Linked DNA regions of Homo sapiens: all the other regions are linked to region 2. The links come from fine-mapping of genetic effects on gene expression. A gene starts in region 2. Each other region holds a variant in brackets. All regions are shown on one strand. Distances are between the middles of the regions. Region 1 overlaps ELAPOR2 (endosome-lysosome associated apoptosis and autophagy regulator family member 2). Region 2 holds the start of ELAPOR2 (endosome-lysosome associated apoptosis and autophagy regulator family member 2). Region 3 overlaps ELAPOR2 (endosome-lysosome associated apoptosis and autophagy regulator family member 2).

Evidence for each region. PIP is the estimated chance that this variant, and not a neighbour inherited with it, causes the effect.
Region 1: its variant is fine-mapped to the expression of ELAPOR2 in skeletal muscle (GTEx, PIP above 0.99).
Region 3: its variant is fine-mapped to the expression of ELAPOR2 in whole blood (TOPMed, PIP above 0.99).

The regions. Positions count from the first base shown.
Region 1 is chr7:87,029,148-87,039,484 of GRCh38, reverse strand. All of the region lies in intron 1 of ELAPOR2 (endosome-lysosome associated apoptosis and autophagy regulator family member 2), which reads left to right. Among named protein-coding and RNA genes, the nearest start is that of ELAPOR2, 25 kb to the left of the region's middle. The variant C/T (reference allele first, on the strand shown) is at 4,534.
Region 2 is chr7:87,055,648-87,065,984 of GRCh38, reverse strand. ELAPOR2 (endosome-lysosome associated apoptosis and autophagy regulator family member 2) reads left to right here and starts at 6,331. Exons shown (of 22, transcript NM_001142749.3): 1 at 6,331-6,660. The coding sequence starts at 6,472. RefSeq lists silencers at 6,054-6,443, 6,534-6,603 and an enhancer at 6,869-7,369.
Region 3 is chr7:87,010,338-87,020,674 of GRCh38, reverse strand. The region is part of intron 1 of ELAPOR2 (endosome-lysosome associated apoptosis and autophagy regulator family member 2); the gene reads left to right. Among named protein-coding and RNA genes, the nearest start is that of ELAPOR2, 44 kb to the left of the region's middle. The variant A/G (reference allele first, on the strand shown) is at 5,741.

The DNA of each region.
Region 1 (10,337 bases), 26 kb after region 2:
CGTCAGAGATATTGGCCTGTAGTTTTTTTTATTATGTGTCTTTGTCTGGTTTTGGTATCAGGGTAATATTAGCCTTGTAGAATGAGTTTGGAAGTATTCTCTCCTCTTGGGTTTTCAGAATAGCTTGAGTTGGACCGAGATTAGTTCTTCTTGAAATGTTTGGTAGGATTCAGCAGTGAAGCCATTGGGTCCCAGGCTTTTCTTTACTGGGAGACTTTTTATTGTGGCTTTGATTTCATTGGTATTGGTCTGTTCAGGTTTTGGACTTCTTCCTGGTTTAGTCTCGGTAGGTTGTATGAGTCTAGGAATTAGTCCACTTCTTTTAGGTTTTCCAGTTGGTTGGCGTATAGTTACTCATAGTAGCCTCTAATGATCCTTTGCATTTCTGCAGTATCAGTTGTAATGTCTTCTTTTTCATTTCTGATTTTATTTATTTGTATCTTCTTTTTTTCTTAGTCTAGCTAAAGTTTTGTCAATTTTGTTTAACTTTTCAAAAAACTAACTTTTTGTTTCATTGATCGTTTGTATTTTCTTCATTTCATTTATTTCTGTGATTTTTATTATTTTCTATTAATTTTGGGTTTGGTTTGCTCTTGCTTTTCTGGTTCATTAAGATACATCATTAGATTGTTTATTTAAAGTTTTTTTTCTTTTTTGATGTAGACACTTATAGCTATAAACTTCCCTCTTAATACTGCTTTTGTTGTATCCCATAAGTTTTGGTATGTTGTGTTTCCATTACCATTTGTTTCAAGGAATTTTTCAATTTTCTTCTCAATTTCTTCATTGACCCACTGGTCATTCAGGAGCATATTGTTTAATTTTCATGTATTTGTATAGTTTCCAAAATTGCTCTTATTATTAATTTCTAGTTTTATTCCACTGTGGCCAGAGAAGCTGCTTGATATTGTTTCAGTCTTTTGAATGTATTAAGACTTATTTTGTGACCTAACATGTGCATTTCTTTAATCACTCATGAAGGTCAATATTTTTCGTGTCACTTAGCTTTTTGTATTTCACTTTTTGTGAGATTTCCTATTTAGGTGTTTGCATCGTTATGTATACAAGCTTTTAGTATAATAAGGATAATATATATTTCCCTAGACTTTTTCTTATCTGTGTGTTTTGAGATATGTAATATCCAGAGAAAGCAATTATTTAGTCCCTAAAAAGGTATATGGAATTACCTCCCTTAACATATCAAACTGTAATACATCTTAATTTCCAAAAAGAATGTTTGGTACATAATACCTTATTAAATCATTACAATATATGAAGGCTTTCAGGTGTTTGAGAAAAATATGGAAGCAGCTACAAAGTGACCAAGAATTCTTGCACTTGGATTGGTATTCTTGGTTCTAAGAGTGTGTTTTAGATATTTCATGACTATTCATTCTCTGTTACTTCTTTTTCAGTTGCCATTCATATGTTTATTAGCTCATCTAGCATGTATCTCACAGGAAAAAATTATAGGATAGTCTATGATGATAGTACAGATGGGTTAAGTGCTGTGATGGAGTCATTCACAGGGCTGTATAGAAGCACAGAGAAGAGGCAACTAAATCAGACTAAAGAAACTCTGGTGTCAGAGCAAGTGATGTTTCAGCTGAGTTTGGAAGGATTTATAGTAGTGCTTTACAGGATGCACAGAGACCACCACATCTCAGTCAAAGAAAATAACATGTATAACATCAAAGAGGAATTAAATAATATTATAATTTCAAGGGCCAACTTGAAGGGCACGTGGGTGGTGGTGGCAGAAGTGTCAGAGACTGAAGGTCTTGCGAGGCAAGCTATGAAGCGCTATTAACATCAAATTAGAAAGATTATTCTGTTGGCAAATGAAGGAACATAAAAGGGAAATCACATTGGACGCAGGAAGATCAGTTAGGAGACTCTTGCCTCTCTCACGGGGAGAAAATAACTAACAGAACTAAACACATGACAGTATGAATGGAGAGGGAGAGAATAGATGGATTTTACAGCTATTAAAGACATCTTATTTTCAGGAGTCTGCAACCGAGTGATACATTTCAGTCTACCATGACTTATAAGTTTTTGGTCTGAGTAGATGCTGCTGTCTTTTATTGAGATAAAAAAATTGAGAGAAGGAAAAGGAGGAGGTGGTGGTGGGGGCGGGAAATAGGATGAGTTCAGCATTGGACATCCTGAGTTTATAGTACCCTGGGCACACACAAACAGTGCTCTCCTGAAGACAGGTGGATGTACAGGAGTGCAGCTGAGAGACAACTTGGGAGCCATGAGTACATAAGAGGTAATTGAAGCCATTGATGTTGATGAGGTCACTTAGGCTCTGAGCATATAGCAAGAGCACTGTGTTGAGGAGAGTGCTTAGGGAAACAACAGCATTTAAGAAGCAAGCAGAGTGAGAAGCATTTGAGGATGAAACTGAGAAGGTACAGCCAGTAGAGAAGGATTAGCATTAGCACAGAAGCAGACTGGAGGTTGATGGGAAGGAGACCCGTAAATCTGGAGTATGATATAGGCAGGGTGATTTTTAATATTCAGGGTGTTTTCTTATTTTAATTTTTCAACTTTTAGATTGGGGTACATTTGTACGTTTGTTATCTGGGCATATTGTATGATGCTGAGGTTTGGGATATGAATGATCCCATCACCCAGGTACTGACCATAGTACCCAACAGTTTTTCAACCCTTGCCCCTGCTTTTCCCTTTCCTTTCTAATAGTCTGTAGTGTCTATTGTTGCCATCTTTAATTCCATGAGTACCCAATGTTTAGCTGCCATTTATAAGTAAGAACATACGGTATTTGGTTTTCTGTTCCAGTGTTACTTTGCTTAGGAAAATAGCCTCCAGCTACATCCATGTTTATGCAAAATACATGATTTTGTTGTTTTTTATGGCTCTATAGTATTCCATGGGGTATATGTACCACATTTTCTTTATCTAATCCACCAATGATGGTCACCTAGCTTGCTTCCATGACTTTGCTATTGTGAATAGTTCAGCAAACCCTTTTTAAAGATAGGGTCTCCTTGTCACTCAGGCTGGAGTGCAGTGGTACAATAACAGCTCACATAGTTTTGACCTCCCAGAGCTCCAGTGATCCTCCAACCTCAGCCTCCCGAGTAGTTGGGACTACAGGCACATGCTTCCATGCCTTGCTAATTTTTGTATTATTATTATTATTTTGTATAGACAGGGTTTCACCCTGTTGCCCAGGCTGGTCTTGAACTCCTGGTCTCAAGTAATCATCCCACCTCAGCCTCCCAAAGTACTGGGATTGCAGGTGTGAGGCACCATGCTTGGCCTACAGTGAGACATTTGAATTGTCATATCATTATTGACAAAATGCATAGTATATGATGAATGACGGAATATTAGGCAGATTCCTGGCTATTTGAACAAATGTATACTAAGATTATTAATGTATGTGATGCTAAACTGAAAGAACATCTCCAATGCAATACTTTTGTGCTTAATATCTAATTTCTGTCCTTTTACTGTTTTACTATTACCATTTTAAATAATACTTGGGTTTTGAGACGGCATAACCAAATTTTGTAAAGTCAGAAAGCTGAGAAGGATTCCTAATGAGTTGGAAAACAGAATTGGGATTCAAAATGATTTCAAAAGGCTAGAATAATGGGCAATCCAACATAATTGATTTAAATGTAGACTGTTCTTTTCTGGTTCTGAAAATCAGATGTTCAAGCATAGAATGGGAAAATTTTACTTAAAAGTACTTCTGAAGCCATAGCTGTCATATGGCTGCAAAAGCAATGATGGAGGGTCTTGAGTTCTGTTTATATGAGAAGAATGCCTTGTTTGTGGAAGGTAGACATTTATATTAGGTCATTAGTTCAACTTAGATGCAATATTTGAAGAGGGATATTGACAAAGGGTGACATTGGCTTGAGATGTGAATTAGGAAGATTAGTTATTTGGAAAGTACGTCACGGGAAACTAACCAAAGGAAATGGGGTTGTTTAGCTTAGAGTAGACTTGAGGGGGCCATGACATGAGCTTCAAATATATTAAGTGCAGTCATAATGCTATAATTGCTATAATGCTCATTTAGAGGACAAGATTTGGATTAGCGGGTAGTAGACAAAAGGATGCAGAATTTAGTTCATCTTAGAAGGTGTTTTACATATGCAGAAGCCATGAGCTTTGTCTTTATACTCTGAAAATTGCAGAGCTGCTTCTTTGGATGGATTGCAAACCTAGGTTCCATGTGTAGGAGCCATGAGTTCTAATTTACTGAACTTTGACAATTTCACTATGCTGGATTTAAGGGGCAGTTCAATGACTGCTCAGGGGTATATCCATACCTACTGTAACTGGTGAGAAGATAAATATTTGACCTTGATGCATTAGTCGTAGCTAGCACACAATTTTTTTTTTTTTTTTTTGAGACGGAGTTTCACTCTTTTTTGTCCAGGCTGGAGTGTAGTGGTGCTATCTTGGCTCACTGGAACCTCTGCCTCCCTGCTTCAAGCTTCAAACAATTCTGCCTCAGCCTCCTGAGTAGCTGGGATTACAGGCACA[C/T]GCCACCATGTCCGGCTAATTTTGTATTTTTAGTAGAGACGGGGTTTCACCATGTTGGCCAGGTTGGTCTCGAATTCCTGACCTTAGGTGATCCAGCCGCCTTGGCCTCCCAAAGTGCTTGGATTACAGTCGTGAGCCACTGCGCCTGGCCACACACATTCTTATTCTGTCTTACTTAGCACTTTATTCTAAGAATGCTACAGTGTAAAAACACAGTGCCCTTTGGTGTTTAACCCTACCTCCTAACGTTAAGAGCAGAAAGAACTGACCCTTGAAAATGTAATGCAGACTTCTACTTGATAATTCTTAGGCATATAAATAATGCATAGCAGGAAATAACTTGAACCAAAATAATAATTGATGCTTAAACATATCTGAGCCTGTTATGCTAGGAAAGTGCTTCCCTATCTAAAGAGCAGATAAATATTAAGATCATTTACTTGAGGTTTTTTTTTAATGATCTCATTTTTTTCTACATTTGTCACCTTTTAAAGTTAAAAGCAATATATGCATTCCAGAAAAATGCAGCAATAAAAACACCCATAATCTCACTAAATAAGCATGCCACTTTTAACATCTTAGTATTTGTAATATGAATAATAAATAATAACAATAGCCAGGTAAAATTTTAAGTGCATTTTTATTTATTAACTCACTCATCTCCCTAACTCTAATTGGTAAGCTTGAACCGCCGCATCTTCTCCCCATGTTTAAGTTACTTGTGAATCCAAGCTGCTACACCAGGGCCCATACTTTTCACCATCAGACTATACTGCCTCTATTACATATATCAAAAGTCCTTTGCATGTATTTCATTATCAGTGTACACATATGGTTACAAAATGGTAATATTATGTACATATAGTTTGGTAATGTTTTTTGGCATTTAAAAATATGACATGAACTTACTCCCCTATTTTGATTCCTCAAGAATTTTATTAAGTACTTGATATGTCTCTGACTTTGTTCCCTGAATAACCAGTTTTTACAAATAGTGTTTTGAACAATCCATAATTCATCCTTTTTCTGTTGGTCTGTTTTCTATACCATCTATTGTGTATGTGGATATATAAAAATTTATAAGCTATTGTTTTATATATAATATGTGCTATATTATATATATGCACATTTATTCAATTTCTTTTGAGCTATTTTCTACACTATTGATTTTTTTTGTACAGATTGCAGAGTTTTATAATATAGTTTTATATGGTGGCACTTAATTTTCTTTCATTCTCAGCTGTTCTCACTTATTTAGTCTTTCAGTTCAACTTCAGAATAATTTTGAAAAGTTAAAAATTTTTTTTGGATTCTCTTAAGTTCGCCCATTTATTTGGAAAAAATGTCATATTTTTAGTATTATCTTCACATTTAAAGACATACAGTCTGTTTTAGCATTTATTGAGGCATTCTGTATTTCTCACTAGCACAATCTTTGTATTCTGAACTATTTTATGTTACTATTTTCCATGACATTTTTCTGCCAACCACTTTACCTTTTAATTGATTTTTCCCTGATATGTTGAAAAGCCACTGGTTTTTAGAAATTAATTGTGTATCTAGTTTCTTACAGGGCTGTCTTATTAATTCTAACGTTTTGTCAGTTAATTATCTTCGATTTTTTTGATAACAAGTTCCATTTATTGAGTAGTTAATGTGTGAAACACTTTTCTCACAGAAGTCCATGCCTCTGCTTTCAGAGATGAAGAAACTGAAGCTCAAAGGCAATTAATAACTTACAAAAGATGACAAAGCTAGTGAGCCATAAAGCTGGGATAGATTTGTCTCCAGAGAGCTCACTTTCCACTGAACTCCACTACCTCCCACTCTGCCTACACAGAACTGATCTATTATGCTTACAGCTCTCCATGACTGATTCTTAGAGGCTATTGATCGAATCTTATTAGGTGTACCAGGCAGCTATTTACAGTTTTTCCCAGTAGCCAATCATTTTCACATGATTTCTTTTTTTCAAGGTAGAGATCCTTTTCTCATGTGTTTCAGAAATCTTTCGTCTCCTCCAAGGTAGATGTTAATTCCACATTTTCACAAGGAAAGCTTTATGTACTGCTGTGTTTTACTCACACACAAGGTGTGTAGGTAGCCACTGGTCCTCCTGTCTTGATAGCATGTCTGTGCAGAGTTCCTAGTCCAGTTTCTGTTGTCTGAGAAACTTCCTTTTTATGCTATGCTGATGAACTTTGAGGATCTCATTCTGTCTATTAGATTCTCGATTAGGAGAATGTTTTAAAGAAACAGAGCTGTCTGTGGTTCTTCTATGTGAAGAAGCACATGATAGGTACTGGACCTAGGGCATTTTCTGCCTCTGTTTTTATCTGTACATTTCTGGGAGTGAAGGATGTACGTGAAGAGGTGAGAGTGAGATTTGTTAGTCTGATGTCATCTTAAACCAGAAATCTGTAAAACTTCAAAAACAGATGGCCTTTTTCTGTTGTTGGAAAACTATATTCCAAAGAAAATTCAGAATAAAAATTGATGGACAAATTGATGTGTAATTCTGTCATTTTACATCTTTTTGTTTTTGTTCTCTTCCTTACACCTCTTTCTTTTAAGACTTATCAGTTAATATGGCTCAGGCATTGCTGTAAGTGTTTTACAGATATTAGCCCACTTAATAGCAATCATTTGTTATTAGTTCATTCATCATTCATAAGCAAATGATGCTGCTTTAAAGTGATATTCAGACATTTTATATAGAAGTTAAATCATTGCCTCAATCTTTAAACAAATCTTTATGGAAGCTTAATTGAAGTGCACTCAGATACATATATTTGAAGTATATAAATTGATCAGTTTTGACATATGTAAGCACTCATGAAACTATTGTCATAATCAAGATAGTCATTTTCAACATCCCCAAAAGTTTCCTGTTTCTCTTTGTAATCTAACCCTTCCTCCACTCTGTCCCTAGGCAGCCACTGATCTGCTGTCACTACAGATTCAGTTGCATTTTATAGAATTTTAGATAAGTGGAATTGTATGGCATGTACTCTTTTTTGGGTGGGGGGCTGTCTTCTTTCACTTAGCATAATGATTTTTGAGGTTTATTCACATTGTGGTGTGTATCAAGTTTGTTCCTTTCTGCTGAGTAGTAGTCTACTATATGGCTATACACAATTTGTTATTTAATATACCTATTTTTAACATAATATAGTTGTAATCATAGCACTTGATATTCTTAAGCTCCAATAAGATAATGTAATCTATGATCATTAAATACTAACTAGTGAGTACTCCAGTAAGTTCTTTATAAAATTTAGCCGCAGCAGTCTAAACATGTAAGTGTAAGTACTAAAGGATTTTTGGCATTCTGAGATATTCCTGTAGGTGATTCTTTGTTTCATTCAGTATTTAACGCTGTTCTGATAAATCTTGATTTTTGGAGCTAACCATTCAGTTAGTCTATTAGATGTGCCTGCTGTTAGAACTATTAATATTTTCACTTACTTGCCTGTCTGTAGATCATTTAACTATCAATTAATGAATGCATGTCTCTGGGAGTGCAGGTGAGAAATGTGGATCTCATGCCACTCATTCAGAGGCTAAAATGAGGACTTTGTTTAGTTCATGGTAATGAGCATTGACATACTGTATGGAAATGAAAACAGTCTTTGTGTGTGTTCAGTTGGATGAACAATTAAATATATTCATTCCTAATTGAAATTATGTTTCTATTGTTAAAGAAAAACTGAGAGGAGTTAAATTTAACATTTGAGCAAGAAAAAAGTTCTAGAACCAGACAGCATTCCTGATGAAGGTGGTGATATGGTTTTTCTGTGTCCCCACCCAAATCCCATCTTGAATTGTAGCTCCCATAATTCCCACATGTTGTGGGAGGGACCAGGTGGGAGATAATTGAATCATGGGGGTGGTTTCCCCATACTGTTCTCGTGGTAGTGAATAAGTCTCATGCGATCTGATGGTTTTATAAGGGGAAACCCCTTTCACTTGACTCTCATTCTCTCTTGTCTGCCACCATGTAAAATGTGCCTTTCATCTTCCACCATGATTGTGAGGCCTCCCCAGCCATGTGGAACTGTGAGTCCATTAAACCTCTTTTTCTTTATAAATTACCCAGTCTTGGGTATGTCTTCATCAACACCATGGGGTAACAGAGTACCCCCACCTACAAACCTGGTGGACTATATAACGAGAAAATAAGAAATGACATACAGAGAGTACTTGATTGGTACAGCTGGCATGTACCTTCTTTGGGTGTAATCTGGCAGCTTTCAGCCTCTGGTTGTCTGCAGCTACTGTGATTTGAGACTCAGCTACTTGTTATAAGGGTTTACTTTTCATGAAATTACAGTCTGTTTACACAAGTTAGGTTATAGTTCATAATGTATGGAGAAACCATTATGCCAAACTCAAAATATGTACGGTGGCAGCTTTAGGCCAAACTTAATTCAGTTTAATGCCATAAATCACAAATCCATCAAGATAGCTAGGTTTAGTTGTATTTTTTCTTTTTCTTTCTTTCTTTTTTTTTCTTTTGGTGGGAGCTGATGAGAATTCTGTTGACTAACATGTTTGCATTTAGAACAAGATAAGCATTCTTTTAGACTAATAGTGTTTTTGCAAGTTTTGAGGACGCTTATGTTTTTCTTATATTGTTCCAGGAAGAGAAAAGGTATTGGTATGTACTGTGACTGACTGACATGTCCCATTTAGGCTTATCTCGTCTTAGAATCCATCTTTTGTAGCAGTAGGTGATCACCCTAACAGGACAGGGAGAATAAATGTGACTTACTTGGCATCATAGTAGTGAGTTCTGCACTCTCTATGACAGAGGCAGGCTAATCCTTAACCTGAAATTTTCAGCTATGGCTTTGTTTTCCTGATCTCTTCAAAATCAGATTGTTTACCTTTATTTCCTCAATTCTCTTTCCAATTCACTAGAGTCAGGCTTTTATCCCACTTATTTTCCTGAATCTCTTGTCATGGTTAGTAATCATCTAATTATTAGTGGTGTCTTTAATCCTCATCCTATTCCATCTGAGGCATTTGACTCTACTTCCAGGCTTCTGCTTTCTTATACTGTAATGTTGTGTCACTCATTGTTATGTCCTTATTTCTTTAGCTACTCTTCTATGACCTCTTTGTAAATCTCGATTGCCCCAGGTTTTTGCTTTTTGTCTTTTTGCATTGTAGATATCCTGTCTGAGTGATCTTATCCATATTTCTTTCATTATTTTTCTGTAAACATGCTTATTATAAACCATTTGAATAATTTGAACAAGCAAGAATGAAAATCACCTGCCATAACACCTATGGAAAACCATTGTTACATTATTTACATTACTTATCCAACTGCTTGTCTTACCTACAACCTTTGTTTAAATGACTCTAAAATCCAACCTCCATTGCATAGTTTTCCATCAAGTTCCAAAATAATATTTATGGCTCCTTAAATTATAAAAAGAATTGCGAAAAAGCACAATCCTTTCTTTAAGGAACTCATAGTCCAGTGAAGTAGCTCTCAATCTGGCTGCAAGTTAGAATCACAGACCAAAAATTTATTTCCAATTTAGGGATCTGAGGACAGGGTCCAGGAGCCAGATGCCAGTGCATAGCCAGGGTTAAGAATCCCTTGTGTAATGGCTATATTTCAAAGTGCCATTTATTTAATATCTACTCTATGCCAGGCCATGTGGTATCCATTTGTTCTTTCAACAAATATTTTTTCAGCCCTTCTTTTATGTTTACCCCTGGCCTAGTTACCGGGAACACATCAGAGAACAAAAAGAGAGTTTCCATTCTTATGGAGATTATGAAATGGT
Region 2 (10,337 bases):
GAGACAGAAAGTCAACAAGGATACCCAGGAATTGAACTCAGCTCTGCACCAAGTGGACCTAATAGACATCTACAGAACTCTCCACCCCAAGTCAACAGAATATACATTTTTTTCAGCACCACACCACACCTATTCCAAAATTGACCACATACTTGGAAGTAAAGCTCTCCTCAGCAAATGTAAAAGAACAGAAATTATAACAAACTATCTCTCAGACCACAGTGCAATCAAACTAGAACTCAGGATTAAGAATCTCATTCAAAAACGCTCAACTACATGGAAACTGAACAAACTGCTCCTGAACGACTACTGGGTACATAACGAACTGAAGGCAGAAATAAAGATGTTCTTTGAAACCAACGAGAACAAAGACACAACATACCAGAATCTCTGGGACGCATTCAAAGCAGTGTGTAGAGGGAAATTTATAGCACTAAACGCCCACAAGAGAAAGCAGGAAAGATCCAAAATTGACACCCTAACATTACAATTAAAAGCACTAGAAAAGCAAGAGCAAACACATTCAAAAGCTAGCAGAAGGCAAGAAATAACTAAAATCAGAGCAGAACTGAAGGAAATAGAGACACAAAAAACCCTTCAAAAAATTAATGAATCCAGGAGCTGGTTTTTTGAAAGGATCAACAAAATTGATAAACCGCTAGCAAGACTAATAAAGAAAAAAAGAGAGAAGAATCAAATAGACACAATAAAAAATGATAGAGGGGATATCACCACCGATCCCACAGAAATACAGACTACCATCAGAGAATACTACAAACACCTCTATGCAAATAAACTAGAAAATCTAGAAGAAATGGATAAATTCCTCGACACATACACTCTCCCAAGACTAAACCAGGAAGAAGTTGAATCTCTGAATAGACCAATAACAGGATCTGAAATTGTGGCAATAATCAATAGCTTACCAACGAAAAAGAGTCCAGGACCAGATGGATTCACAGCCGAATTCTACCAGAGGTACAAGCAGGAACTGGTACCATTCCTTCTGAAACTATTCCAATCAACAGAAAAAGAGGGAATCCTCCCTAACTCATTTTATGAGGCCAGCATCATCCTGATACCAAAGCTGGGCAGAGACACAACCAAAAAAGAGAATTTTAGACCAATATCCTTGATGAACATTGATGCAAAAATCCTCAATAAAATACTGGCAAACTGAATCCAGCAGCACATCAAAAAGCTTATCCACCATGATCAAGTGGGCTTCATCCCTGGGATGCAAGGCTGGTTCAATATACGCAAATCAATAAATGTAATCCAGCATATAAACAGAACCAAAGACAAAAACCACATGATTATCTCAATAGATGCAGAAAAGGCCTTTGACAAAATTCAACAACGCTTCATGCTAAAAACTCTCAATAAATTAGGTATTGATGGGGCGTATTTCAAAATAATAAGACCTATCTATGACAAACCCACAGCCAATATCATACTGAATGGGCAAAAACTGGAAGCATTCCCTTTGAAAACTGGCACAAGACAGGGATGCCCTCTCTCACCACTCCTATTCAACATAGTGCTGGAAGTTCTGGCCAAGGCAATTAGGCAGGAGAAGGAAATAAAGGGTATTCAATTAGGAAAAGAGGAAGTCAAATTGTCCCTGTTTGCAGACGACATGATTGTATATCTAGAAAACCCCATTGTCTCAGCCCAAAATCTCCTTAAGCTGATAAGCAACTTCAGCAAAGTCTCAGGATACAAAATCAATGTACAAAACTCACAGGCATTCTTATACACCAATAACAGACAAACAGAGAGCCAAATCATGAGTGAACTACCATTCACAGTTGCTTCAAAGAGAATAAAATACCTAGGAATCCAACTTACAAGGGATGTGAAGGACCTCTTCAAGGAGAACTACAAACCACTGCTCAATGAAATAAAAGAGGATACAAACAAATGGAAGAACGTTCCATGCTCATGGGTAGGAAGAATCAATATCGTGAAAATGGCCATACTGCCCAAGGTAATTTATAGATTCAATGCCATCCCCATCAAGCTACCAATGACTTTCTTCACAGAATTGGGAAAAACTACTTTAAAGTTCATATGGAACCGAAAAAGAGCCCACATCGCCAAGTCAATCCTAAGACAAAAGAACAAAGCTGGAGGCATCACGCTACCTGACTTCAAACTATACTACAAGGCTACAGTAACCAAAACAGCATGGTACTGGTACCAAAACACAGATATAGATCAATGGAACAGAACAGAGCCCTCAGAAATAACGCTGCATATCTACAACTATCTGATCTTTGACAAACCTGAGAAAAACAAGCAATGGGGAAAAGGATTCCCTATTTAATAAATGGTGCTGGGAAAACTGGCTAGCCATACGTAGAAAGCTGAAACTGGATCCCTTCCTTACATCTTATACACAAATTAATTCAAGATGGATTAAAGACTTAAACATTAGACCTAAAACCATAAAAACCCTAGAAGAAAACCTAGGCATTACCATTCAGGACATAGGCATGGGCAAGGACTTCATGTCTAAAACACCAAAAGCAATGGCAACAAAAGACAAAATTGACAAATGGGATCTAATTAAACTAAACAGCTTCCGCACAGCAAAAGAAACTACCATCAGAGTGAACAGGCAACCTACAAAATGGGAGAAAATTTTTGCAACCTACTCATCTGACAAAGGGCTAATATCCGGAATCTACAATGAACTCAAACAAATTTACAAGAAAAAAACAAACAACCCCATCAAAAAGTGGGCGAAGGACATGAACAGACACTTCTCAAAAGAACACATTTATGCAGCCAAAAAACACATGAAAAAATGCTCACCATCACTGGCCATCAGAGAAATGCAAATCAAAACCACAATGAGATACCATCTCACACCAGTTAGAATGGCAATCATTAAAAAGTCAGGAAACAACAGGTGCTGGAGAGGATGTGGAGAAATAGGAACACTTTTACACTGTTGGTGGGACTGTAAACTAGTTCAACCATTGTGGAAGTCAGTGTGGCGATTCCTCAGGGATCTAGAACTAGAAATACCATTTGACCCAGTCATCCCATTACTGGGTATATACCCAAAGGACTATAAATCATGCTGCTATAAAGACACATGCACACGTATGTTTATTGCGGCATTATTGACAATAGCAAAGACTTGGAACCAACCCAAATGCCCAACAATGATAGACTGGATTAAGAAAATGTGGCACATATACACCATGGAATACTATGCAGCCATAAAAAATGATGAGTTCATGTCCTTTGTAGGGACATGGATGAAATTGCAAATCATCATTCTCAGTAAACTATTGCAAGAACAAAAAACCAAACACCGCATATTCTCACTCATAGGTGGGAATTGAACAATGAGAACACATGGACACAGGAAGGGGAACATCACACTCTGGGGCCTGTTGTGGGGTGGGGGGAGGGGGGAGGGATAGCACTGGGAGATATACCTAATGCTAGATGACGAGTTAGTGGGTGCAGCACACCAGCATGGCACATGTATACATATGTAACTAAACTGCACATTGTGCACATGTACCCTAAAACTTAAAGTATAATAATAAAAATAAAAATAAAAATAAAATAAATAAAAATTGGGGTTATTTATACCACAATCTGATTTAAGTTAAAAAAGAAAATAAATCTATTTATATAGCATCATTTTGGCTATGGCTTTTGTTGATACAGCTAAGGCTTTTGTTGACTTTTTAACAAAATTCAGTTCAATTTTCAGGTATACACTGCACAAATAAAGTGGAAAAATGATTATTACCTAGTGATTGTAAGCTATTTCAACCCATTCTTGCAAAAATTTCATTATGAATTTTCTATTAAAGTATATTTTTATAAAACTATCTTTAAGAGTAAATTTATTGATCAGATAATCACAAACTTTGAATAATTTGCTATTACATCCTAAAATAACAGGTAGAAGAGGACCTTAGAGTCTTCTTGAAATTTCCTTTCTCTGTCAGCCTTTATGCTGATTTTAATTATCCAAGGTCAAGATCTTTTTTATGGATGGGACAACTATGAGAAAAGTATTTATTGAAAGTGGCAAGTTGTCCTACTCTGGAAAATCTACAATTGTCATTTGATCCAAGTGCATTGACTGGACGACTCTTATTTTTATAAGGAAAGAAGCTGTTTTCAATTTAATAGTCATGTTGTTAGTTCTTTCTCAGATGACAAAAATCATAACATAATTTGACTCCTAAAAATTCCACATGAATTAAAGAATAAAGCATATAAAAAGGAAATAATAACAAAATATAACAAAATAAGAAAACATAGGCATCTGTATGATTTTGCAGAGATACGTGTACTTCTAGATATAAAAAAGGAAGAAATCACAAAAGAAAATGTTGCTACATTTGAATACCTAAAGATGACAAGCTTCTGCCAGAAAAGCTATCAGAAGTAAATTTAAAAGACTACAAAAAAGTATTTGTAAGATATATGATAAACATACACAAAGCTTATGAAGATTGCTAACGAATCAATAAAAAATGGAACTTCAATAAAATGGCTAAAGTGTGCCAGTGAAAAATTCTCACACCCTGACATGAGAAGGAAAAATGCAAATAGCTAGTAGATATATATAAAAAATCACTCGATGTCACCAATGATAAAAATACATTTTAAAAATAATAGCTTTTGTCTCTTCTACCAAAATGATAAATATCTGAAGTATTATAATCTAGGGTGATGTGAAATAAATACTCATAAACTGCTGGTAACAATTGCTACAAATTTTTTGGAAGGAATTTGTACACTATTCGTCAAAAACTTTAAAAATACACATATCATGTGATCCAATGTTTTCACTTCTAGAAAGTTATCATAAAATATTTAAAGATGCACACAGATTATGTTCCAAGGGCATTCTTTCCAGAATTATTAATAACACTGAATCCTTAAACAATGCCTAATATCTAATAGTAAATTACATGTATCTAAAGAGTAGAAAATATTTTACAATTATTAAAGTTGTGTTGTTGGAGACTTTAATGACTTGAGAAAATATTTATGTTATTAAGAATAAAAATAAAAGCAGGTTACAAATTATTATTCCAGTTTTGCAGTACACACAGAGTTAAAAAAAAAAAAGCAAGGAAATTCCTCAACATGTTAATACCATTAACAATGTTATCTCTGGGTGGTAGGATCTCTAGTTATTTTTATATTCTTCCTGATACTTTTCAATATTTTCCAAAATGTTTACAAATAACATATATTGTTATAATCAGAATATAGGTGTGATACACAAATCTATATGTGTATACATACACACAAACACACATATACAGAGACTTTCATGTGGAAATTTTGTTAAAAGGATATTAGAGATAATGCCACAAACAAATGTGCCACAGGCCAACTTATAATGAGTGGGCCACGTGGATTTGTCCAGATATTCAATAATCAGAAATTTGGATGCTTCTTTTGAAAAACACAATAACTCACCCATTTACAGAATCTGAGATCAAGAAGGGATCTTGAGATCCTTGCCACTGAGGAAGGCCTTATGTCCATCTTGTTCACCATCACCTAGTTCAGTATGTTTTTGAATGAAAGAAAAAACGAAGAGCACCTCAATCATCGCACAGATGGAGAAACTGTTTCCTCCAGAAAACACAGGGCTTAATGCCCAATGTTACACATCTCCACAAAATAACACCAATAGCAGCAATAATTATGGCTACTACTACCAACACATGTCACCTACTGTGTGCCAGGCACTCTTCCAAGTGCTTTATGTACATCAACTTACTTAATCCTCATAATAATCCTACGTGGTGGGTATTATTTTCATTAAATAGGTGAGAAAACTGAGTCACACACCACGTCTACACCTCAGTCCTCTTTCTTCCCCGCCATTTCATGCACACCCTAACTAGAAATTCGATCTGACGCTAGCCAGCATGGATCCTTACAAGGGATGTTCCGAGGGCACATCTGCGTGTTTGTGTGCAATGAGGAAAGTGGCGAGCTTTTTAAAGACCCACCGCCAGAAAACAATGTCCTGATGTCCTGTATTTACTCTGGCTTCATCCCGGGAGCGCCCCTCCCAGTGGGCCACGGGGACCTGAGACAGGCTACTCCACGGGGTCCCCAGCCTCTCTCGCCCTCTAGCGCGAGGCGAGCGCCGCGCAGCCCCTGGGGACCCGCCGGGCTGGGCCGCAGCCCCCGCCCGCGCCACCTGCTCCCCAGCTCCAGCGTCCCCGCCCCGCGTCCCGCCCCCGCGCCGCGCCCGCGCCCCGCGGTCCCTCCCTCCGGCGTGACGGGAGCATCGGCGCTGGCTGCCCGGGCCGCGAGCGCAGCAGAGCTGTCAGCGGGCGGACGGGCAGCGGGTGACGGAGCGGCGAGACGAGCGCACAGCAGTCGCGGCCCGGGAGCCGGAGCTGCCGCCGCACCCCGGGAAGGCTGCCTTGCCGCCGGCCCGCCGACCGCGGCCGGACGAAGATGCTGTTCCGCGCCCGGGGGCCGGTACGGGGCAGGGGCTGGGGGCGGCCGGCGGAGGCTCCCCGCCGCGGGCGCTCGCCGCCCTGGAGCCCCGCCTGGATTTGCTGCTGGGCGCTCGCCGGCTGCCAGGCGGCCTGGGCTGGGGACCTGCCCTCCTCCTCCAGCCGCCCGCTTCCTCCTTGCCAGGAGGTGAGCAGCACCTGGTCCTCTACCTGGAGTTTGCTGGGGGAGGGCGCGGAAGATGAAGGCTGAGAGCGGTTCCTGTTTATTTCTGTTTGCCATCCCCTTTTCCTTTGCTTGGAGAACAGGGGCTTTCGTTTGCTTCGAGGGGTGAAGTTGCCCGCCCTGGTAGCTGGCCCGGAGAGGGTGTGTGGCTTCGCTGTCTCTCGGGGGATGCTTTTCTGTCCGCGCTTGTGTCTTTTGGGGGCTCTGCAGGACTTTGCGGCGTCCTTTTTGGACAGCCAGGTTTGAGGACCTGGGGTCGAGGGAAAGATTTCAGGAAGGGGAGGAGACTGGGGAAGCCCCACCAGTGGGATTTGAAGAACCATCTCATCACAGCTTTTCCAGAGAGCCAGACACAGACACCAGAGGATTTCCCGCTCCTCCTCCCCCTGTCTCCACTCCCCTGTCTCTGCAAACGCCTTCGTCCTACTCCCCTGCCCTCAGCTTCCTGATTAAGGCCCTGTGGGTTTGCTAAGCCAATGTATGGTGTCACTTAGCATCCTTCTGACAAAATGTGGATTTGAATTTGGGGGGGAAAAAAAAGGAGTATGTACTTGGTAGAGAAGATGCAGGTTGATGATGGAGAAAATTAGAAAAGACAGTGAATATGCTTCTTTTGGGAGGTGCTTTATCACCTGGCTGAAGTATTGCCGCGGTGTATTTTATAGCTTGTAATCATTGTTGTTTTACAGCCAAAAAGGATAAACTATGGGAGATGAGATTTTTATCTGGCTTTTAGAAGAACGAGACAGTGTGCCAAAAATTTACAGGGGGTGTCATTGGTTCTTGTATTGGGTGTTTATCTTTCCATTTAGTGTTCAGAAAGTGCATCCTCTTAATGAAAATCAATGAGGGGAAGGAAGCAACATTTCTGACCTACTTTGATTGTGTTGGGAGGATATATGGAATAGATACTGTTTTTAGGAAGATTGTTAGGAATCAGGGCGATGGGTCGTTTTAATTAATGTAGCAAAAATAGGTTAGCCAATAGCCCCTCTGGGAAGAAAGGCCAGACCCTCTTGTTTGTGTATGTTGCTCTAACTTCTGAATTTTACCGAGACTTGAATTACAGAGTATCTGTGTTCTACACATCATCCATCATCTATGGATTTTCGTCTTTCTCTCCTACAGTACAGGTCCCAGGACAGACTGAAATGAAAGAGAATCGGATCAAAGGCTTGTGTGCGAACACACAGCAATGTTGTAATTGGGGAAATCAGGGCAAGAGCTCAACAAACAGCTGTGTTTAATTTTAGGGCTTTTTAGTATAATGAGCTTAATCTATATTCTACAACTTTACATATCACCTGGGAATAATCCATTATTCCAGGTTTCCACAGAAAGCTGCTTCTTGGACATCTCAGATTGAACAGTTGTGACAAGATAAACTTTATCCTCCAGCCCCCAACTTCTAATATGCAGAATATATTTTTCTAAACTGAAAAGTCTTAAGCTTCTGATAACATCGATTCTTAGTAATGAAAATCTGCTTGAAGTAGGCGAAGGTCAGGGTCAATAGAAGTGATGCCTTTGGTCTCTACAACTAGACTAATCTTTTAGATGAACACATGTCCTACACATGTATACCTAGAAAGAAGAGTCTGCAACCTAAAACAAAGATTGAAAGGAGGGGCAGAGAGATGACAGAAGGTTCAGGAAGGCTGGGTTCACTTGATCACAGGTCCTTACTGCATTGGCTTTAGAAATTGCATGTGACTCATCCGTTGAGATCTGAAATTTACATTTTCCTTCTGAAAAATGAGAATAAATAAAATATATAGGAGGACGCTATTGAGCCTGCCTTTGGCTGTATGTTTTTATAAATGTTAATGCACAGATCCATTTATGTTCTTCCTGATGACTGACAAGTAAGAGGAACTAATGGGAGTTAGAAGTTCTTGGAAGTAGAAGAGGCCTAGTGACCTCCCAGGGGTTGAATCTGTTTGATATCTGGTCTAACCAGTGGAGCTAATTTACAGAATTGGTCATTGTTTTTCTCTGACATTGTTTTTAAGAGGAAAGTGGGGAGGGCAAGTTATTTTCAGACTTTGAAGGTAAAGGAATGTTTGTGCTGGGAGTGGGGAAAGGGTATCCTCTTGAGCTCAGCCCTTTCCTCTGAATACAGTTATGGGATTGTGGGCTAAACGCCTGTGAATAAAGACACAGTTAAAGTAACTACTCTGTGTTCACTCCTGCTCGTTTATCATTTTCCACTTTTTGTTAACATTAAAGGAGGCAAATGCCACAAAGGACAGACTATGCAGTGGGGAACAGAGTGAGGGCAGTTAAAGTGAGGAATTTTCAGGCTGAGAGCTAAAACCAACTCTCAATGTGAGAGAATGTTGAGGAGTATAGAAAAAGCTATAGGCCATTTTGAACCTCATTTCCCCCCAGTAGTTTGTGTCACCCTCATTTATTAATATTTTTGTAGAAGTAGTCATGTTTAACAAAGTTACATAAACTCTGATTTTCCTGCCTGGTTTTAGAGGAAAGCAACTAAAGGAAGACAAATGCAGAGAACTGGCCTGGGAGTCATCCAGTTATAATTGCCTGAGTTCAGAAAAAAGGCCCTTCAAAAACTAGGTTATGGGTAAAAGTTACATTTAGATTTTTGCAGAGGAATGGACTCTGGGGTGAAACTCATAAAATACATATTCCTTTGTCAAAGTCTTTGGATTATGAAGTCGAAAGGGGGAGAAAAGTTATTGTGTTGGAATGTTCAGCTGGTGATCAGATCAGCAGTGTGGAAGCACACGCACAAACAGGAAGCGATCATTTGGGAGACAGAAATAAAAGGAAAGTCAAAGTGCTGGCAGATGAAGCACAAGAATAGGATGTGACTTTGGAAAATGGTATTCAAAGGAAATAAATGAGGCCTGGACATCAGAAAGTATAGAATTCCTCAGGTTTTTGTATGGGGTGAACTTATAAAAGGTAAATCTTCTTTGGGTTTCTTGGCCTGTGTTTCACTTATAAAATGTTATTAATGAAACATGACCAATTATTTGTATTATGAGGATGAAATGAGATTAATATAAGATAAAGGAGAAATATAAATATGAGGGCTGATTATTGCTAGATTAGTAGAGCTAGATCCTGATATTTTGGGAAGAGTCTACAGTGAGACTCCAGAGGTTCCTAGGATAGGCCCATCCAAGACTTGGCATGACATTTTTGACTCAGTGAATAATAGGACTTAATGGGGCTGCCAGAGCAAAAAAATATAAAGGCCAACAGATAATTCAGAGTTGCAGTAAGGTATCAGAAGATAGAAAAGTACATGAGAGTAAAAAGAACAGAACTAATTGGATTATGTCTGTATTATTTACATTTGGTAAATTAAATCACAAAATAGCTGATTCTTAGTTCACTGCTGTAAAATCTTGCATAATGCAATTCTGCTGTTCTCCCTGACTACTGAATGATGAGTTTTGCTAACAGTTTTTGTTCCACATTCAGTTTATACCATGTGCTAGACAAAATGTCAGATATGAAATTAGTAATTTAAAGAATATAATTTAATTGGATAAGGATGAGACAGATATGTAAACAAACATTGCAGTTAAGTGATTTGAAGCCATGAAAGAAGCAATGGGCCATCATATCTACTGAGGGGGGTGGGATCAGAAAAGGCCCTATGGAGG
Region 3 (10,337 bases), 45 kb after region 2:
CAAAACATCTCCATAATTCCAAAGTAAAACCCTGTAACCATAAGGCAGTTTCCATTCTCTCCTCCCTGCAGCTCCTGGCAACCACTAATCTGCATTTTATGTGATTTATCTATTCTGGACGTTACATATAAATGTAATTCTGGAATATGTTACCTTCTGAGCCTGGCTTTTTTGACAATATAGTATTTTAGAGGTTTATCCACATTATAGTAATATCAGTACTTTACTCCTATGTCTGAAAAATATTTCATTTTATGTATATACTACACTTTGTTTTACATTCATCCATTGATGGTCACTTGGGTCCTTTTCACCTTTTGGCTGTTGTGAAGAGTGCTGCTATGAACAGATGTTTGCTTTTATTAATAATAGTTTCTTCTGATATCAAAGCTGTATATTTAAGATAGAAAATTTAGAAAATACAGAATTACAATTACTTCAAATTTATGTTTTGCTGTGGTACTTTCAGTCTTTTAAAATATGCACACATATACATATGTGTGTATGTAAGTGCATATATATGTATTAAAACCCATAGCTGTGTACAAAAATATACTTAAAAGAGCAATTGGGATGATGGTACACATTGTTTTCTTGCACTGTTTACTGTTTAACATTTCTGAACACTTTCTGATGTGTTATAAGAAAATATTGGTATAACATAATTTTAAATGAAAAACTAAAAATATTGTATATGCTATATTGGTATAAAATAATTTTTAATGAAAAACTAAAAATATGTTATATTGGTGTAACATAATTTTGAATGAACAGAATTTATTTTACCAATATCAAGTGATAAAAGTTTAGCTTTTGACTTCTATATTAAGTGCAATGAATATCCCTTTATATAGAATACTACTTAATTATTTTCTAGGGATAGAGTCCTGGGAATAGAAATGTTTTGTCAATAAGTGTGTACTTTTAAGGCTTTTGACACACTGCCAAATTTCCCTATGGAAATGTTATACTGATTTACATACTACCAGCAATATTTGAGTGTCTGTTTCTTCTTCTGATTGCCAATATACTTTTATTCATAATCACTGTTACTTTAACAAAAATAGTGTCCAGTTCATATTTTAAAATTTCTATTTATATAAAACATTACCAGATACTGTTTTCTTCCTTTTGTGAATGCCTGCTTAATGACTTTTAGTGAGTTTTGTCTTTTTCCTAATGACCAGAAGAGATTTTTGAAAAATATAATGGGCTGGGCATCGTGGCTCATTCCTTTAATCCCAGCATTCTAGGAGGCTGAGGTGGGCAGACCGCTTGAGCCCAGGAGTTCAAGACCAGCCTAGGCAACATCTGAAATGAGGTCTCTACAAAAAATACAAAAACTTAAATTGGTGTAGTAGCATATGCCTGTGGTCCCAGCTACTCAGGAGGGCAAGGCAGGAAGATGGCTTAAGCCTGGGAGGTTGAGGCTGTAGTGAGCTGCGATTGTGCTACAATACTCCAGCCTGGGTGACAGGGCAAAACCGTGTCTCAAAAATAAATAAACAAAAATACAAAAATACAATGAAGATGTAAATCTTGACAATCTGTTAGAAATATATTTTTTTCTATGTTGCTGTTTGTCTTATTTTATCTATGGTATTTTGGTCACAGAGAAGTTAAATGTCTTAACGAAGTGATCTCTGTCATTTTTTGCTTTTTTCTAGAAGTTTCTGCCTTGCTCACATGTTTTTCCAAGTCTCCCTTAGGTGATTGGTGTATATGTTTGATAATGAGCAAAACATTCTAATATTGTCTTGTTTGAACATGGAATACTGCTTGTCTTAGTATTTATTTTGCTACATAACTTTCTCCAGTGACTTATAAAAAAACTACAGTTAACTCAAGGCTACTAGTACACTAAGTTTAGGATCTGAATTTGAACCGTAAGCTCAGAGACAGACACATATCACAAGAAAACAAGTGCATGTCTGGGATTTATTCAGGGAACCCATTTCCACAATATATGCTTGAGTCCAAACTCATTCATGTAGTTTCTCTCTGTATTTGTCTGTGTCCACAGCTTTATAACTTGCATTGAACTTTCGGGCACTAAGATCCTCATTCATCAAATAAGTATTAAATTTTGTTCATCATACTCCATTTACCTACAGGAAATTGAACCTGTTCATTTTTGGGTGAAATTGTTTTTACCTTTTGAAAATCATCTAGCTAGAATGCCTCATTTCTTAGACAATCCAAATCATTTGCCTTTATTATAAATAGGCAAAATATTCCTACATGTCAGGGAAATAAGTTATATGAATTGATACTAACCTATGTGAGTATCTAGCATTTTTTCTCTCATTAAATATAGAATTAGAAGTGACTTTTCTGGCCGGGCGTGGTGGCTCGCGCCTGTAATCACAGCACTTTGGGATGACTAGGCGGGTAGATCACGAGGTCAGGAGTTCGAGAACAGCCTGGCCAAGATGGTGAAATCCTGTCTCTACTAAAAATACAAAAATTAGCTGGGCATGGTGGCGGGCGCCTGTAATCTCAGCTACTTGGGAGGCTGAGGCAGGAGAATCGTTTAAACCTGGGAGGCAGAGGTTGCAGTGAGCTGAGATTGCGCCACTGTACTGGGCCTGGCACCAACCTGGGCGACAGAGCAAGACTCTGTCTCAAAAAAAACAAAAACAAAAGAAGTGACTTTTCTGCCAGTGTGAAATGGAACTTCTGTTTACTTTAGGCTGATGATGTTAATGACAATTATTAATCTTTATCTGCTTTTATTTTATTTTATTTTATTTTTTGAGACAGTCTCACTCTGTCACCCAGGCTGGAATGAGGTGGTGAGATCCTGGGTCGCTGCAACCTCTGCCTCCCAGACTCAAGTGATCCTCCCACCTCAGCCTTCTGAGTAGCTGGGACTACAGGTACACACCATTATGCCCGGCTAATTTTTGTATTTTTTGGAGAGACGAAGTCTTGCCATGTTGTCCAGGCTGGTCACAAACTCCTGAGCTCAAGTGTTCTGCCCACCTAAGCCTCCCAAAGTGTTGGGATTACAGGCACGAGCCACCACGCTCAGCCTATTTTTGTGTTTTACTTCTGATAGATCTTTTAAACAAACAAACAAACAAAAATATGTGTTTATTATAAAAGAAATTAGGAAATATAAGCAAACCAAGCATTCTGAGTACTCTTAATACCTTAGCATATATTCATTCCCCTTTCATATGTATGCATTCATTCGCATTTAATAAAAATTCATTTTTATACTCATCTATTATGAGCATTTTTCCAAGTCAGGGGCAGATGTATACAATTTGAAATAAGTACAGAATTCCACTGTGTGGATATATCAAAATATATTTCAGCAGTTCCCCATCGTTGATCATTTAGACTGTTTTCTACTTCTTGCCATTACAGTTCATAATAAACAATGTGATAGTAAAATCTTTGCTGTATTTAGATATTTATTTTTAGATATTTCCTTGGATAAATTCCCCCAAAATGGAGTGTATCTAATTTTTGAATCTTACAAGTTTTTGGAGAGAGAAATGAGATTGCCAGGAATGTAAAAGCTGAGGATTGGATGTCTTTTCAAATTTAATACATAAAATCAAATACAAATTTCGTCTTCAACATTATGGCATTTATCTTTTTTTCTTTTTCTGTGATAATTCATCTTCCTCTCTAATTTATTTTTCCAACTGTGGAAAATGAATGTAAGAGAATGAGTAGGATAGGAATCTAAAAGACTTGTTTTCTATCTTTATTCTTGTTGGAAAGTTGGGTTTTGGTTACTTTTTGAAGACAGGTTTTTGGAAAGGAGATTTCTTTTATTTGATCATGCTTAGTCTGTTGTTTTGACATTTAGAGAACTTTTTACTTTGGGTGCTGCTGTTTGCTGATGATGACTCACCTTGTTATCAACTTTTACCTTTTCCTTTTCCATGGACATTCAGAACCCACGTTGTGTAGTTACTGGGCGAGATTACAGGTATAGAGAGAAGATTGGTTCATTACAGTTATGTTATATTATATATTATATATATATATAATAGTTACTATACTCCGTATAGTTACGGAACTGGATGTGGCAAATACTTCAGTATGGTCAGTTCTTACATCATTGATAAAAGCAATTGCAACATTACCTGTAAATTTTTGGGGCATTGCTCTTTTCTCCTGTGATTTCTACCCATCTTGTACCCATCCTCTTACTGCTGCATTATTTCCAGTGCTTTAATTAAGAGCACTGGAAATGGACTGTTAACTGACACCCTACTTTAAGAAAATTTGTTGTGTAAAGAGCCCAATCTGAAATATGAAATACAGGAATATTCATTATCATTAGAAAATATATATATATTTTTTGAGATGGAGTCTTGTCCATCCCTATTTCTACCCATCCCCTTACTTGTAAATCCTAAAACTTTCTAACCTAGAGCTTTATATTTTATCAGCAATGAATAATCTCATTCTGAAAACAGAGATACATTTTGAGTCTAAAATATCCCTATACACATAAACACTAACATACAGAACAGTTTCATTTATAAAAGTCTTTGAGAAATGATGACCCATTTCTCTGTCTTGAAGATTAAGAATTTTCTGTTTGCTTTCAAGTATTTAGATTTGTTTGTCTCAGGTTTCAGTTTCACAGGAATCACTAAGCACAGAAAAGGACACAACACTAATTTAGGGAAGACTTGAGAGTGTGAAGGTAATCACACCTTTAGAAAGAGATTTGTTACCTGGAAAGGAAACTGCTGCATTACTTCCAGTGCTTTAATTAAGAAACTGGCCTGTTAACTGACAACCTACTTTAAGAAAATTTGTTGTGTAAAGAGCCCAATCTGAAATATGAAATACAGGAATATCATTATCATTAGAAAAACATATATATTTTTTGCTCTGTCACCCAGGCTGGAGTGCAGTGGCGTGATCTTGGCTCACTGCAACCTCTGCCTCCTGAGTAGCTGGGAGCAGTTGGGAGTAGCTGGGAGTAGCTGGTTCAAGCAATTCTCGTGCCTCAGCCTCCCGAGTAGCTGGGACTACAGGTGCCCGCCACCATGCCCAAGTAATGTTTTGTATTTTTAGTAGAGGCAGGGTTTCACCATGTTGGCTAGGCTGGTCTCGAGCTCCTGGCCTCATGTGATCCACCTGCCTTGGCTCCCAAAGTGCTGGAATTACAGCTGTGAACCACCATGTCTGGCCAGATTTTTCATCTTTGAAGGACTTAAAACAGAAAGCCTTTTAGTAAAAAGGTTTTATAATTTTTGTTAGTGAGGAATTAAAAATAGTTTATATTTGCTGAATAAATTTTAGGCAGGAGAGTAGGAAAGAGCTAGGATTAAAATTGGTGTCAGATAATGTCTAAAGCCAATAACTTATTTTTGTGTCCAATAAGAAACGACCTTTAGACAGTGTTGCAGTTCACAACAGATTTATCAGCTTTGTTTTTGGTCTTATATTTTGATAGAGAATATTGATAAAGATTGTTTTGATAAAATATTAAAATTAAAAGGCACTTTTTGAATATAGTGCAAAAATATTTGCAAAAAATTAAAGACAGACTTTGTAATATTCTAAATGGTTATTTCTTGTGAATATAAATCTGTCATTCTATTAGCATGTGCAAATTTATTTATTATATGGTGATAATTTATAGTCATAGCAGTTGCTTTTTTTTTCCTGCAGCGCACCACTTCTTTTTTTTTCTACCAGCTTTACTGGTATGAAATCAATAAAGATATAATTATATATGAAAACTGCACATCTTTAATGT[A/G]TACAATTTGATGTGTTTGGACAAATGCATACACCTGTGAAACCATCATAACAATCATAATAATAAACATATTTACTATTGCCAAAAACTTCCTCCCATAGCAGTTGTTTTTTGAAGTGAATTGAACAATATTTCATTTTTATGGAGTGTTTTAGTGTGTTCTTGTGTAATTATATTACAGGAATCAAGAGCTCTCTATAGTGGGTAAGAGAAAAATTTTGCAAATTTCTTATGTTAAATTGTTGATTGTATAAATCAAAATTTAAATTTTAAAATATGCACTCATATTTGCTTCACTTAATCTGGCAAAATTGGTTTTTAGTTATTTCTTTAAGCGTCACATTTTTTGTGACTCACATTGTGATTGTGTTTATTGATAGAGTGGATGTGGTGTTGACATAGGTGTTCTTGAAATTCTGTGTGTAAACCCGTGTTTGGCCATTACATTCTGCTTCGTATTATAGCTTCATCTTCACAAAATCCAGTATTACTAAGTAATTGTCTGGAAATGTCACTTTTATAAGCACTGAAGCTTTTACCATAAATAGTTAATTCTTATTATTCATAGTAGTTATGATCTGTGAAGTTGCCATGAAGACTGAATTAGCCAATACTGAACAATTGGTCCTAGAAAAAAATACAAGAGCCTCTGGTCTTATTTTTGTCAGCAGATTGAAATATAATGTTGTTTTACATGTGTTTCCATTTTAAGAGATCTTATTTAATCTATGTTGTTGATTCATTAATGTTGAACTCACAGCCAACAGCACCGTAACTCATACATGAAGGAAGCTTGCCTAACATGTATTTTCTCTGTAAGGAACATCAAAGCCTTCTAGGAACTCTAGACAGTACAATGTTCTGGGACCATTTTAAAGCAACATAAAGCAAAAAAAAAAAAAAAAAAGTGAAAAACATGGCACGAAATATACTGGGAAAAGGACACTCAGTGACAGTATGGGAGCTGAAACAAGAAGGCAGAGCATCACCTGTTGGTCTCAGCTGGGAATGTGTGTGTCAGGTGACTCCAATATTTCACTGCACTGTGCATGTTCACACATAACTAGGAAATTACTGAGTATTGATTTTGTGGTGATAAGTAAATTTTAGCAAGTAAAATTTGCAAATATGGAATCACCAATAATAAGTCTCGACTGGCTGGTTTTTGAGGGAAATTTTTCTATTTAATAAAATGAAATAAAATTGAACATAAGTTAATTTGATGATGTAAGCTAATCATTGTGGAGATGCTTATGAAGGGAATCCAACATTTACTGAGAGTCTGTCATTGCTGTTCCTGGTGTGTTTGACTCTACATCAGTGTCCCTTATAATTCACCATAATCTTCTTCACCACCTGCTCCTTCCTCACTCCATCCCTGCTGGTACTTCTCAATGTGGCAACTTTTAGGTATCTAACACTCACCTCACCCTGTCTTGCTTGCCTAATCTGCTGTCTCATGTTACCTAAGAAAACCCTGGGCATTTTAAAAATAATCAGAAAACAAGCTCATTATATGATTAAGAATAGCTTTTTGATATGAGTTAAACTCAAGTTTAGTATGAGGGACTTGAATACATTGTCTTTATGACAGTATTTTCCCTTCTGATTTTAGGGTATTTGTTAACATTTTTTACCCCGATGTATGTATGAGATGATTTATAGTGCTAGAGCTTTTGCCACTAGATCACTGGGAACGATTGAGCAAGCTTGGGTTAATATCTTGAGCTTCATTCTCTTCTATTGAAATTGAATATAAACTGTGATATAAAGTAGACCCTTCTTGGCCATTTTTGCATATATTCTTGTGGTATATTATCTTCATTTTGTAAGATTGGAGACTGAGGTCTGGAAACACAAGATAAATATCTTAGAGTAATAGCAGAAATGATGAGGAAGTTTGCAAAGTGCTTCTTTGTGTTCTATTTGATGGCTTGTTACTGCAATAGCATGATTTTGTGCTTTATTTCCAACCTATTTGGGCCAGCTTTAACATTTTTTATGGTCAATTTTTTAGAGGATTTTCTAGTCATTAAATTTCTTGGATTTTAGAATAGTGCTTTGCTGGTCACACAGCAGTGGCAGGCTGTGTGAACTTTCTTCTCTTCTAGAACAGTTGCAGATTTAAAGCTACCTTCTGCCAAAGGACCCATGGAAGATATGACTTTTGTTATACTTTGTTCATTCAAGTTGGAATGTTCTTTTAAGCCCTGCTAACATGAGATTAACTCCTATTTTATTTTTGTTGCAATGAAAGTATCTGTTCAGATACTTTCTGAAAAGTACCGAACAGAGTACTGAACAAAGTACTTCTAAAAAGTATGTGAACAGAAAGTACAGATACTTTGTGTACAGACATCTGTTGTGTAATGCCTGTCCTAAATGCAAAAATGATCCCTAGCTTAGGAGAGATATGATATAATTGAATAAAAACATACTGACTGAATGTAGAAAGAGTAGAACTAGACTAATACTGTGGTTAGTAGCCATTTGTGGATATTGACTACTTTTTTTTAATTTCTTTTTGAGAAGGAGTCTCACTCTGTCACCAGGCTAGAGTGTCATGGCACAATCTCGGCTCACTGCAACCTCCACCTCCTGGGTTCAAGCAATTCTCCTGGCTCAGCCTCCCGAGTAGCTGGGACTACAGGCATGCGCCACCATGCCCAGCTAATTTTTGTATTTTTAGTAGAGACAGGGTTTCACCATGTTGGCCAGGATGGTCTCAATCTCCTGACCTTGTGATCTGCCCACCTTGGCCTCCCGAAGTGCTGGGATTACAGGTGTGAGCCACCACGCCCGGCCAGATATTGACCACTTTAAATGTGGCTATTTCAAATTGAAGTGTGCTATATGTGTAAAATACACATTGGATTTAGATTATTTAGTACAATAAAAGAATGTAGTTTCTCATTAATATTTTTATATTGTTACTGTTCAAATGGTATCAAGTTAAAATATATTATTAAAATTAATTTTACCTGTTTTTAAAATCATTTTAATGTGACTACTAGAAAACTTAAAATTACACATGTGACTTGCATTTATAGCTTATATTTCTATTCAGAAGTATATAATATATAGCTGGTACAGATGTTATGCTGAATATTTAAAACATATAGACCCTGTCTTTTGTTTCTGTCATCTTTCTTCCCCTCCTATAAATATACCTTTAATATTGTTAGAAAGTAAAGAAATATGAAAAGCTTATTCAATGATCAACTCCCTAGTGACCCACCAACACATTTCTCATTATAGGTGGTTGTTATGTGCTTCTGTGAAAGCTCCCAAGACACCAAGTTGGTAAAAGCTGGATAAACAAGGCTGTATTTTTTATACAACAATGTTAAGCCAGTTGGCAATTTTGTGAACTCACTGAAACGGAAAAATTGTACTGAGTATTTGTATTAAAAAGAGTTATAAATATCTGCAATTATTACTCAAGTATGAATTATTTTAAAGTTTGTTACTATCAATAAGAACCGAATATTACCAGAGCATTCAGTAGTATTAGGAGTTTTAAAAAGCTGGATGCTATTTTCAGGTATACAGACATGGATTCAGTCTAGGAAAGGTTCTCTCCTTTATTACTTTGTTTAATGCAGCATGAAGTCAATTGTTCATTTGCAAACATGTTTTGTGGTGGTGTATTTTCTTTTTCTTTTCTTTTTTTTTTTTTTTTTTTGAGATGGAGTCTCGCTCTGTCGCCATGCATCTTGGCTCACTGCAACCTCCACTTCCCGTGTTCAAGCGATTCTCCTGCCTCAGCCTCCCGAGTAGCTGGGACTACAGGCACGTGCCACCATGCCCAGCTAATTTTTTTGTATTTTTAGTGGAGACGGGGTTTCACCATGTTGGCCAGGATGGTCTCGATCTCTTGACCTCATGACCCGCCCGCCTTGGCCTCCCAAAGTGCTGGGATTACAGGTGTGAGCCACTGCACCTGGTCGGTATATTTTCTTTTTAAAAATTTATCTAATCCAGGACAGTGCTGACATTTTTTTATTTTCCAAAGCCTTTATTTTAAAAGTAACATTTTACTCATATAAACTTGGACAATGTAAAATTATGTATATAGTGGTTCCTCTGTATCTGTGGGCTGCACATCTGTGGATTCAACCAACCTCAGATTGAAACTATTTGAAAAAAAAAATGGCATCTGTCCTGAACATGTAAGGATTTTTTTCTTGTCATTATTCCCTAAACAGTGCAGGTATTGTCTTAACATAGAATTTTCACTGGCTTTATGTTTTTAAACTATAATAGTACCTGTCTGTGAATTGTGCAGATTGTGCTATAATATCCCTAGAGAAATGGTAAAGACAGCAGCAGAACAAGGCTCTTCTCTGTTCTACTCAAAGGGTCATCTCTTCTGCCAGCTCTAAAAAACAATAGAAATTCTTAGAGAAACTCACATTTTAAAAGTTTTTAGTGATCCTTCAGTAGAAATGCATAGAAATGTATCAGAATTCATTGTTTTTTTCTGAAATGCTAGAGGATGCTTAGTCTTCCCCTATGTAGCCTATAATTTTAGTTCTGTGTTAATATGAACACTGATGAAAGACATAGGTAGTACTTCTGATAGTACATTTTCACT